Regions from separate parts of the Homo sapiens genome. Here region 2 is linked to region 1. Evidence: fine-mapped expression QTL. A gene starts in region 1. The other region holds a variant in brackets. All regions are shown on one strand. Distances are from middle to middle. Region 1 holds the start of H3C2 (H3 clustered histone 2). Region 2 overlaps HFE (homeostatic iron regulator).

Evidence for each region.
Region 2: its variant is fine-mapped to the expression of H3C2 in whole blood (INTERVAL, PIP above 0.99).

Annotation. Positions count from the first base shown.
Region 1 is chr6:26,029,874-26,035,252 of GRCh38, reverse strand. It overlaps H3C2 (H3 clustered histone 2), which reads left to right and starts at 3,154. Exons shown (of 1, transcript NM_003537.4): 1 at 3,154-3,664. The coding sequence starts at 3,193. The coding sequence ends at 3,603. H2AC4 (H2A clustered histone 4) reads left to right here and starts at 1,635. Exons shown (of 1, transcript NM_003513.3): 1 at 1,635-2,161. The coding sequence starts at 1,685. The coding sequence ends at 2,077. RefSeq lists enhancers at 718-777, 1,108-1,157, 1,198-1,257, 1,561-2,190, 3,128-3,247 and 1 more and a silencer at 1,678-1,777.
Region 2 is chr6:26,087,780-26,093,158 of GRCh38, reverse strand. HFE (homeostatic iron regulator) reads right to left here. Exons shown (of 6, transcript NM_000410.4): 2 at 2,055-2,318; 3 at 1,570-1,845; 4 at 199-474; 5 at 1-40. It also overlaps HFE-AS1. Among named protein-coding and RNA genes, the nearest start is that of HFE, 3.0 kb to the right of the region's middle. The variant A/G (reference allele first, on the strand shown) is at 2,935.

The DNA of each region.
Region 1 (5,379 bases):
TTCATCACAATTTTACAGGAGATTTTAGAATTAAGACTGAAAGATACAGGGGAAATTGCCCATTTTTATGCTTAGGTTCAACAAGATAAACAGCTGTATAGGGTACGATCTAATGCTAACAGACTGAGTGGGGAAGCCCCGCAAGGCTTGTCTGTCAAGATTCTTCTTGACCTCTCAGTGCAGCATTTCTTCCTTCTGGTTATAGGACAAGACTCTCTTTTAGAATGGGGGGTCTTATGACCTACAGGCAAACAAGGTAGGTTAGAGTAATACTTTTAGGTTTTATGGCTGGTTCTAGGGAAAAGGAGTTCTGGTTTGTATGGCCTACCTTGAGGAGGAATTCTGGTTTCTATGGCTAGACTTTGGGGAGAATGGGACTTACAGACAGGAAGGCAGAAGGTGGTCAGTGAAACACTTTTATAATCATAATCCCATTTTGAGTATTTCTGTGTTATGGAATGTTTGTTCTCTCATTTCCTGAAAGATTCCAGAGACTCCTCATTCAGTGTTGTGAAAAAGTTCAGGAAATGCAACTCAAAAATGTGCCACTTTGTTACGCTGATTTCTTTGAACTGAGGGCACCTAGGAAACAGTAAATTCAAGGAAGGGCTTTCGCTGAACTCTAATCAAAAATTTGAAAATTAAAAAAAAATTCAAAAAGGAATTTAGTTGTTAAGATTCACTTCCCTGGGGAATCTCATCAACCAGAGAAGATTAACTGTATCACAGGAGAGGAGACTGGTGGTTAACACCATCTAAACAGACTTTGTCACAGCTGTCACCTATTCTTTGAAACACCCATTTATTTTTCTCCAAAATCATATACTCTCCCCTAAGTTGCCTACATCCCCCTTCTTTCTCCCTTATGAATCAAGAGAGCTTATAAGCTTCTACAGTTCACTGGGATTTGGGGTATTCGCTTTTCTTCCCTCCCACTCCCCCTCCCCTTTTTTTGTCTTTGAGACACAGTCTTCTGGCTCTGTCGCCCACGCTGGAGTGTGGTGGCTCTATGTGAACTCACTGCAACCTCCTCCTCTCGGGTTCAAGCGATCCTCCCACCTCAGCTTCTCGAGTAACTGGAACTACAGGCGTGCACTACCAAGCCCGGCTTTTTTTTTTCTTTTTCTCCCCCGTTTCTTTTTTGGTTATTTTACTGGAGACAGGGTTTCTCCATGTTGTCCACGCTGGTCTCGAACGCCTGACCCGCCGTCCTCGGCCTCCCAAAGTGCTGGTATTACGGGCATGAGCCACTGCGCCCGATTTGAAGGACCTCTTAAATATCTATTTAGAAATTGGTCGGAGTCCACTCCTTTCCAAAAACATGAGTCACAATCCGGGAAAAGCACGAGCGGCTGAAAGTCAAAATAACCAGAACAAAACCTCCACTCATGCTTAAAAAAGGTATTTTGACAAAATCCTAATTCGGCCAATTATTATTAGTATTCAAGTCGAAGGCTCGTCAAGCCAGACTGGGGATTGGGTCAAACATAAACCTTACACCAGACGGAAGGATTACATGCAAATGAAGGATGCAGATTCTGATTTCCCATTGGGTATTTGACATTAGCCAATGGGAGAATTCCTCACAGCCTACCTCCAGTCAGTATAAATACTTCTCTGCCTTGCGTTCTAATGTAGTTTCATTACATTTTCTTGTGGCGATTTTCCCTTATCAGAAGTAGTTATGTCTGGTCGCGGCAAACAAGGCGGTAAAGCTCGCGCCAAGGCTAAGACTCGGTCTTCTCGTGCAGGTTTGCAGTTTCCTGTGGGCCGAGTGCACCGCCTGCTCCGCAAAGGCAACTACTCCGAGCGCGTCGGGGCTGGCGCGCCGGTGTATCTCGCGGCGGTGCTTGAGTACCTGACCGCCGAGATCCTGGAGCTGGCGGGCAATGCGGCCCGCGACAACAAGAAGACCCGCATCATCCCGCGCCACCTGCAATTGGCCATCCGCAATGACGAGGAGCTTAATAAACTCTTGGGGCGTGTGACCATCGCGCAGGGTGGCGTTTTGCCTAATATTCAGGCGGTGCTGCTGCCTAAGAAAACTGAGAGCCATCATAAGGCCAAGGGAAAGTGAAGAGTTAACGCTTCATGCACTGCTGTTTTTCTGTCAGCAGACAAAATCAGCCTAACAGCAAAGGCTCTTTTCAGAGCCACCTACGACTTCCATTAAATGAGCTGTTGTGCTTTGGATTATGCCGCCCATAAAGATGTTTTTGAGGTGTTTTTAATGGCTTTGAGTGTGGCACTTTTAGTAATTTGTCCTGCAGAAATTAGATCCATAGAAACCTCAGGAATTCTAGGTATGTGGGAGAAGTGCCATGCAGCACAAAACATGTTTACAGGGGTGATTCGCGTTAAGTTTCACACACAGCAGTTACTACATTTTAGAGGAAGGAAATTATACCCATGAGTGCATTCCTAACTATCTTGAATGGAAGTGTTAAAACCCGCATGCCCCACACAAGTTTGAATATGTCATACCATTTGCTGTAGCAATTAATGGCATACACAATTGAGAGCACACACATTACCACTGAACATTTGAGTATGTATTTCCCAAAATGAGCTTTTTTCCAGTTTGGGGATGTTTTGCTTTGTTTTGGGGTGGAGTCTCCCTCTCGCCCAAGCTGCAGTGCAGCGGCGTGATAACAGCTCACTGTAACCTCGAACTCGGGCTCAAGCGATCCTCTTGACAGCCTTCTGAGTAGCTGGGATTACAGGCGAGAGCCGCCACGCCCGGCTAAGAGCATTTTTCTAATTGCCCACACTTCTTATGCGACACCCAGAAAAATACAATTTTAAATAAAGCGCATATGCAAATTTCCCTAATCGTCTCCAATATTCTCTGATTTCTTTTTTATATTTTAACTAGAAACAATTGGAGGTTTCCGCGTTGCTTTGTGTGGTTGTAAATTTTAAGACTTCAGGAAACTTTTCCAGTACAAGACTTGTCCACAGTGGATATAGCAGCTAAGGGGTTAACAAAATGACGTCAGAGTAGCTACGGTAATGGGCAGGAGCCTCTCTTAATCTGCAACCAGGCACAGAGATGGACCAATCCAAGAAGGGCGCGGGGATTTTTGAATTTTCTTGGGTCCAATAGTTGGTGGTCTGACTCTATAAAAGAAGAGTAGCTCTTTCCTTTCCTCCACAGACGTCTCTGCAGGCAAGCTTTTCTGTGGTTTTGCCATGGCTCGTACTAAACAGACAGCTCGGAAATCCACCGGCGGTAAAGCGCCACGCAAGCAGCTGGCTACCAAGGCTGCTCGCAAGAGCGCGCCGGCTACCGGCGGCGTGAAAAAGCCTCACCGTTACCGCCCGGGCACTGTGGCTCTGCGCGAGATCCGCCGCTACCAAAAGTCGACCGAGTTGCTGATTCGGAAGCTGCCGTTCCAGCGCCTGGTGCGAGAAATCGCCCAAGACTTCAAGACCGATCTTCGCTTCCAGAGCTCTGCGGTGATGGCGCTGCAGGAGGCTTGTGAGGCCTACTTGGTAGGGCTCTTTGAGGACACAAACCTTTGCGCCATCCATGCTAAGCGAGTGACTATTATGCCCAAAGACATCCAGCTCGCTCGCCGCATTCGCGGAGAAAGAGCGTAAATGTAAAGTCACTTTTTCATCAGTCTTAAAACCCAAAGGCTCTTTTCAGAGCCACCCACTTATTCCAACGAAAGTAGCTGTGATAATTTTTTGTTGTCTTAACAGAACAAATTTCTAAGGACCCCCCCGGAAAGCATTAGACTATGGTCTTAAAGTTGATTAACAGAAATAACGGTTTGGTCAGTCTTGCAGTGTAGGTTATTTCTGACCTTATTAAGGTGCTATTTGGAGAGAAGCTGTGTAAGTCCACTATCATTCAGGCCTCTAGCTTGCTATGATTAGCATTTGTTTAAACAACTTTGTAAGAGTAAGGGAAAAATCTGGTAAGTAGTTAACTGGCGCTTACTAGGCATTTTTGCAAAGCTTTGAAAAGATTAGAAAATTGTGTCTTGCGAGTTCCAGTGTCTTCCTCAAAATGCTTAGGAAGATTTTCTCAGCTCAATACATAGTCCCCTAGGTTTTCTCATATATTATATATATATATATATATATATATACTGTTAAATTCATTTGGCTGTTAACATTAACCTGAAATTTATTCTGGTGCAAAATGTGAGGCAGGGATCTAACTGGCTCTCATTTTATCCATAGCTAGCTACCCACTTTAAATCTGTCAGTCTGTCGACCAAGCATAATTTAATCCCTTATATATGAATTTTTATATGTGTGGCTTTGCTTGTAAATAGTCTATCTGGTTGCATTGCTTTGTCTCCTCTAGGACTATGCACCATGACATGCCACATTCTTTTTTTCAGTACTTCTTGCCTGTAGTTATTAAAATCTAGAATTTACAAGTTTTAACCATTTTCTTTCTGTTGATCTTGCTTTTCGGTTTTGGAGGTTGGGGATTGAGTACTGGAAGAAAATTTAGAGGGATGGGAATACTGTACGCAAACAAAAGTAATATTTACTTTAAAATTTTTATATTTTGTATTTTTTTATCATATAGCTTTTACATCACATTTTACAGACTAACTTTAGAACAACCACAGAATGTCCAACATTAAAACTACTAATTCCAAAGACCTTGCCTCACATTCTTTTTTACAATAAATATTTTTTACACCTAACATTCTTTCTTGGCCTACATCTAGAATGTAAACTGATGTACCATACTAAAATCGCCTGACCAACTGTCAACAACAACAAATCACACACACAAAAGATTAAATTTGAATTGCATCGTTTACTTAAATTCATTTGTGTTCCAGCTTTTAATAAGGCAGTTTTTGGTTTATAAAGTAATATTTGCATTTTAAAAATTATGAAAATGAATATGTCAGTTTGTTTTATGATTCGTTTTTCTTGACTCTTATACAAGCGACTCTAACTGGCATAGACATTTGTTATCCACAGACAGTATAGATATGTTAGAGATGCCAATGGACTTGGTCTATGCCAAGGTGACTACTCACAAGCTCTGGGCCCAGCTGAAGGTCAAGTATTTTTTTTCCAGTTATAGATGTGCTGGATCTGATGTATAGCGCTTGACTTTTTATATTTTCTTTATCTGTAGGAAACAAATGTGTTGGAGGTACTGGGTCTGACGAATAGCATAAAAGAATAAAGTTACATTACTGTCTGAGGATCAGATGGACAGGGGGTGGTAGCTCAGTCCAGCTATTTTCCACTCCCTCACTTACATTCTTTGCCCCCTCCTCAACAGAACAAGGATTCTGCTGTAACTCTTCATTGACAGTTGATATTTAAAAATTAACGAATGGATGAAATTCTCATTTGTGAAAGAAAATTTATTGAGCATTTTGTATTTGTGAG
Region 2 (5,379 bases), 58 kb before region 1:
CTGATGACTCCAATGACTAGGGTGCCAGACGGTGAGGGCTCTAAAACAGAAAAAGCAAGTTAAAGCCTTTGATTGCCACCCTCAGCCCACCCCCTAACAAAGAGCAGATCCTCATCTCACTGCCATAATTACCTCCTCAGGCACTCCTCTCAACCCCCAATAGATTTTCTCAGCTCCTGGCTCTCATCAGTCACATACCCCAGATCACAATGAGGGGCTGATCCAGGCCTGGGTGCTCCACCTGGCACGTATATCTCTGCTCTTCCCCAGGGGGTACAGCCAAGGTTATCCAGCCCTGGTAGGTCCCATCCCCATTGGGCAATACGTCTTTAGGTTCGAACTCCTTGGCATCCATTGGCTGCTTATCCTTCAGCCACTTCATGGTGATGTTCTGGGGGTAGTAGTTCAAGGCCCGACACCGTAGAGTGGTCACTGAAGAGGTCACATGATGTGTCACCTTCACCAAAGGAGGCACTTGACAGGAAAGAGGAAGGATGAGGAGAGGGGATCTGTTTACCCTTGCCAGGAAGACTGGAACTTTCACTTCCTTCTATAGGTTGGAGGAAGGAAATACCCTTTTCAGAAAAAAACAAGCTACAGGAGAGACACCATTTTGTGTCCTAAGATTGGACTCTAACACAGTGTCACTTGGAGAGCAGTCAGATCAGCTTGTTCTCCTCACATGTAAATATACATATCTGTTACCCATGTTCTTTGTTCTGATAGATAAAATTGCCCTTTATGTGCATTGAAAATGATTGAATACAGATGGTCAGTTTCACCTGGGTCAACCTAGGAGGCATTGTTATAAGAAGCGGACTTGTAAGATAGGTAGCTTCAGTGATTATTGCTATGTTCTATGAAAGAAACTTTTAACCTAAAGGATTCTTCTACTCTGATAAGTGGCCTCACTTGATATTTTGTCCTGGTATTCATATGATAGCTGAGATCTCTGAATTCTCTTTTTTTTTTTTTTTTTTTTTTTAAGATGGAGTCTCACTCTGCTGCCTAGGCTGGAGTGCAGTGGCGCGATCTTGGCTCAGTGCAACTTCCGCTTCCCAGGTTCAAGCGATGCTCCTGCCTCAGCCTTCCAATTAGCTGGGACTACAGGTGCGCATGACTGTGACCAGCTAATTTTTGTATTTTTTTAGAGACGGGTTTCACCATGTTGGTCAGGCTGGTCTCAAACTCCTGACCTTGTGACCACCCGCCTCGGCCTCCCAAAGTGCTGGGATTACAGGGGTGAGCCACCGTGCCCGGCCTTGACATTTCTGAATTTTTAACAGGTATAAATATACAAAAGATTATTGGTTAAATAAAAAGCAAGGGCCATAGACACTTCCCTTTGAGCCATATGCATGGAGAAAAGAAATTAAACCCATGACTTGTGGCTGTCTCATACATCTCAATTATAAGGTAGAGACTCTAGGATTGAGAAAGTCCCTTCCCAGAATTTGGAGAGGCACACAGCCTCAGCCACCTCTGAAACTCCAACCAGGGATTCCGTGCCCTGCAACCTCCTCCACTCTGCCACTAGAGTATAGGGGCAGAAGTGTGTTTCCACCATACCTTGTTGGTCCAAAACACCTCTCCCCAGCTCCAGCAACTGCTGCAGCTGTGCAGGGCAGTCCCTCTCCAGGTAGGCCCTGTTCTGCCTGGCCCGAATCTTGTGCCTTTCCCACTCCAGCTTGGTGGGCCAGGCCCTGGGTTCTGCTGCTCTCCAATCCAGTGTGTCAGGGCAGAATTCAAGGTGGTCCTGCCCATCATACCCGTACTTCCAGTAGCCCTCGGTACTGTTGTCTTCTTGCATTTCACAGCCCAGGATGACCTGCAGGGTGTGGGACTCTGGAAAAATCCCCAGCCTTGTTAACTGCAACCAAAGGAATAGGTCCCTATTTCCACCATCCCCAAGGACCAAATGATCTCAGGAAGCAAATTCCTTCCCTCTTCCCTGCTCCCACAAGACCTCAGACTTCCAGCTGTTTCCTTCAAGATGCATGAAAAGATGAAAAGCTCTGACAACCTCAGGAAGGTGAGGCCCCCTCTCCACATACCCTTGCTGTGGTTGTGATTTTCCATAATAGTCCAGAAGTCAACAGTGAACATGTGATCCCACCCTTTCAGACTCTGACTCAGCTGCAGCCACATCTGGCTTGAAATTCTACTGGAAACCCATGGAGTTCGGGGCTCCACACGGCGACTCTCATGATCATAGAACACGAACAGCTGGTCATCCACGTAGCCCAAAGCTTCAAACAAGGAAAGACCAAGGTCCTGCTCTGAGGCACCCATGAAGAGGTAGTGCAGAGAGTGTGAACCTGGAGACAGAGCAACAGGCCTTAACCATGTGTAGTAGGAGGGGAGCAGGATGTTGAGGCTCCACACACCTGCATCAACTCATACCATCAGCTGTGTCTGGTCCTCATTTTGTGAAGGGTGAGTTGCAGTCCTGTCTTTCTTCCATATGACAGTCCTGGGTGCTCTTTCCTTGTGTGCTTTTCTCTGCCACACGTGGCTGCCACCCCCTCACTGCCCCCAGATCCTATTCCAATACTCATGATTAGACAGACTCCACTAAAGCTGGTGGATTCTAGAAAATGTTAAGGTGTGTCTAGCCATGGTAGTTGAACTCAGGAGTTGGTGCTCAGGGCAAATTAGACCCAAATCCTGAGGAATAATTCCTTCAGTTTTTTTTTTTTTTTTTTTTTTTTTTTTTGAGACAGAGTCTCACTCTATCACCCAGGCTGGAGTGCAGTGGCACAATCTCAGCTCACTGCAACCTGCACCTCCTGGGTTCAAGGGATTCTCCTACCTAAGCCTCCTGAAAACCTGGGACTATAGGCGTGCGCCACCACACCAGGCTAATTTTTGTATTTTTAGTAGACATGGGGTTTCACCATGTTGGCCAAGCTTGTCTCAAACTCCTGACCTCAA[A/G]TGATCTACCTGCCTCAGCCACCAAAGTGCTGGGATTACAGAAGTGAGCCACCGTGCCCAGCCTTGGTCCTGAATTCTTACACTGAACTGCCTATGTGGCCTCACCACTTGGAAGCCTGACTGGAATCTCAAACTTAACATGTCCAAATGCAGATCCTTGATTTACCCCAAACTGCTCTTTCCTCTGCCTTCACCATCTCAGAAATGGCATTGCCAATTACCCCACTGCTCAGGCCAATAAAATTAAAATAAAGAACAAAGTCAACTTTAACTCTTCTCTTTTTCAGGGGGTCAGGGGAGACAGGGTCTTGCTCTGTCACCTAGGCTGAAGTACAGTGGCACAGTCATGGCTCACTGCAGCCTCAACTTCCTGGGCTCAAGCAATACCCTCCACCTCAGCCTCCCGAGTAGCTAGGATCACAGGTGCATGCCACCACACCCAGCTAATTTTTGTATTTTTTGTAGAGAAGGGGTTTTGCTGTGTTGCCCAGGCTGGTCTTGAACTCCTGAGCTCAGGAATCTGCTCTCCTTGGCCTCCTCCTTGGCATGAGCTACTACACCCAGCCAATTCTTCTCTTTCTCTCACACAACATAGAATCCTTCAGCAACTTCCTTCAGAATATATTCAGGAGACAATGGTTTGTCACTCCCTTTTCTGTTCCCACCCAGCCCACTCCACTACCTCTTGCCTGGACTGTGTAACAGCTTCCTGGCTGGGCTCCCTGCTTTTACTGTTGCTCCCTTCATTCTGCTTTCCACATAGCAGCCAGAGCAATCTTTTAAAAGCCTGTGACAGATCACTGTTACTCCTTGGCTAGAATTCACACCACAGCCTACAGGCGCCTGCACAACCTTGTTTGTGGCTCCTCTTCTGAGCCCATTACCTACTTCTTGGCCTCTACTCCCCAGCACTACTTGTTTATTTTTTTCAACCCGAGCTTCTTAACCAGGAGTTTGTCTACTAGGTGACATGTGGCAAAGTTTAGAGACATTTTTGGTTGTCAAGACTGGGGGAGTGCTCCTAGCACCTAGTGAGTAGGGAGGACAGGATACTGCTAGACATCCTACATGCAGATGGTAGTCCCCCTTCCCACCCCCACGCCGCCCCCCCCCCCCACACACACACACATGAGTAGTGCTGAGAAAACCCGCTTTTTAATCCAACTTGCCAGGCCCACTCAGTTTGCCTGGGAAATACTGCTCCCAGTCAATATCATTCTTATTTCCTTCATGTCTCTGCTCAAGTGTCAGCCCCAGAGTGACTTGCCCTGACTTCTCTGCTTCTCACAACACCCATGATTTCCTGATGTTGTATATCTTTCTGCTCATTTGCTTATTGTCATCTCTCCCACTAGAATGCAAAATATCAAAGGGTAAAGACTTGTTTCCCTGCTCTCTCCCTTGGGGCTTGAACAGTGCAACACATGGCTGGGACTCATTTACACTTGTAAACAATGAATATTTCTGCTCAACATGAAATTTTATTATTCAACCTCTAATGCAGTGTGATGTTTAAGAATCATAGCTATGAAGTGGAGACATGAGCTCTGCCACCAAAGCCCAGTGTACCATTGAATAAATTTGCCAGGAAGCAGGCCGTGCCATGCCTCATTCTTGTCATGTGTAAAATGTGGATACACGTAGTACCAAAACTCAAAGTGCTGTGCTGAGGCCGGCGTGTGACCCACAGAACACTGTGCTACACTACAGGGCAAAATCACTGTCAACTAAGATTAGAAGCAGCTGTAGTACTTGAAATAACATCAGAAAACCAGATTATTTATGTTCTTTGTAACCTGAAAAGAGTTATATAATCTGAATTCCAGTTAACTTCTAGTAAAATAAACGTATTATTAGCTCCTACCTCCCTATGCCTAGTGAAAATCAAATAAGATCAGATATGAATGTAACTTAGAAGTGAGTGCATTGCTTACATGTTCATTATCAGTACTTTGTAGAGAGGCCTCTTAATTACACAGCACATTGCAAATCAATAAAGCCTAGCCGAAAAGAGAATTGTTCAGTTCAAACGTTCAAAACTAACATATACTTAATTTTCCAGGCAAAAGAACAATTGCCAAGAGTGGGGAAAGGCCCGAGGTAGGCCTCTCTCAGGAGCCTCCCACCCTAGAGACCTCCACCCCAGGTCTCACCAAAAGTGGGTGGAATGGTGAAGAATTCAGATCCCCAACGCCACTCTTTCGCGCCCCCACCGCCCAACGCATTCGTTCTGAGGTGGAAACCCCGTGCGGATCCTGCTGTGGGTTTGCTCAGCCTTCTCGGCAAGCACTCAGGGAAGAACTTCCTGTTTGGAGATGACTGGGGAAAAAACTGCACAGCTGACATTGGAAATAAACCCGAGTTCCAGGTTCAAGGAGCCCCAGGCTTAGCTCAGCTCAAGTGAGGAACTACGAGATTTATTTAAAAGCATTCTAGTTGGGGGAA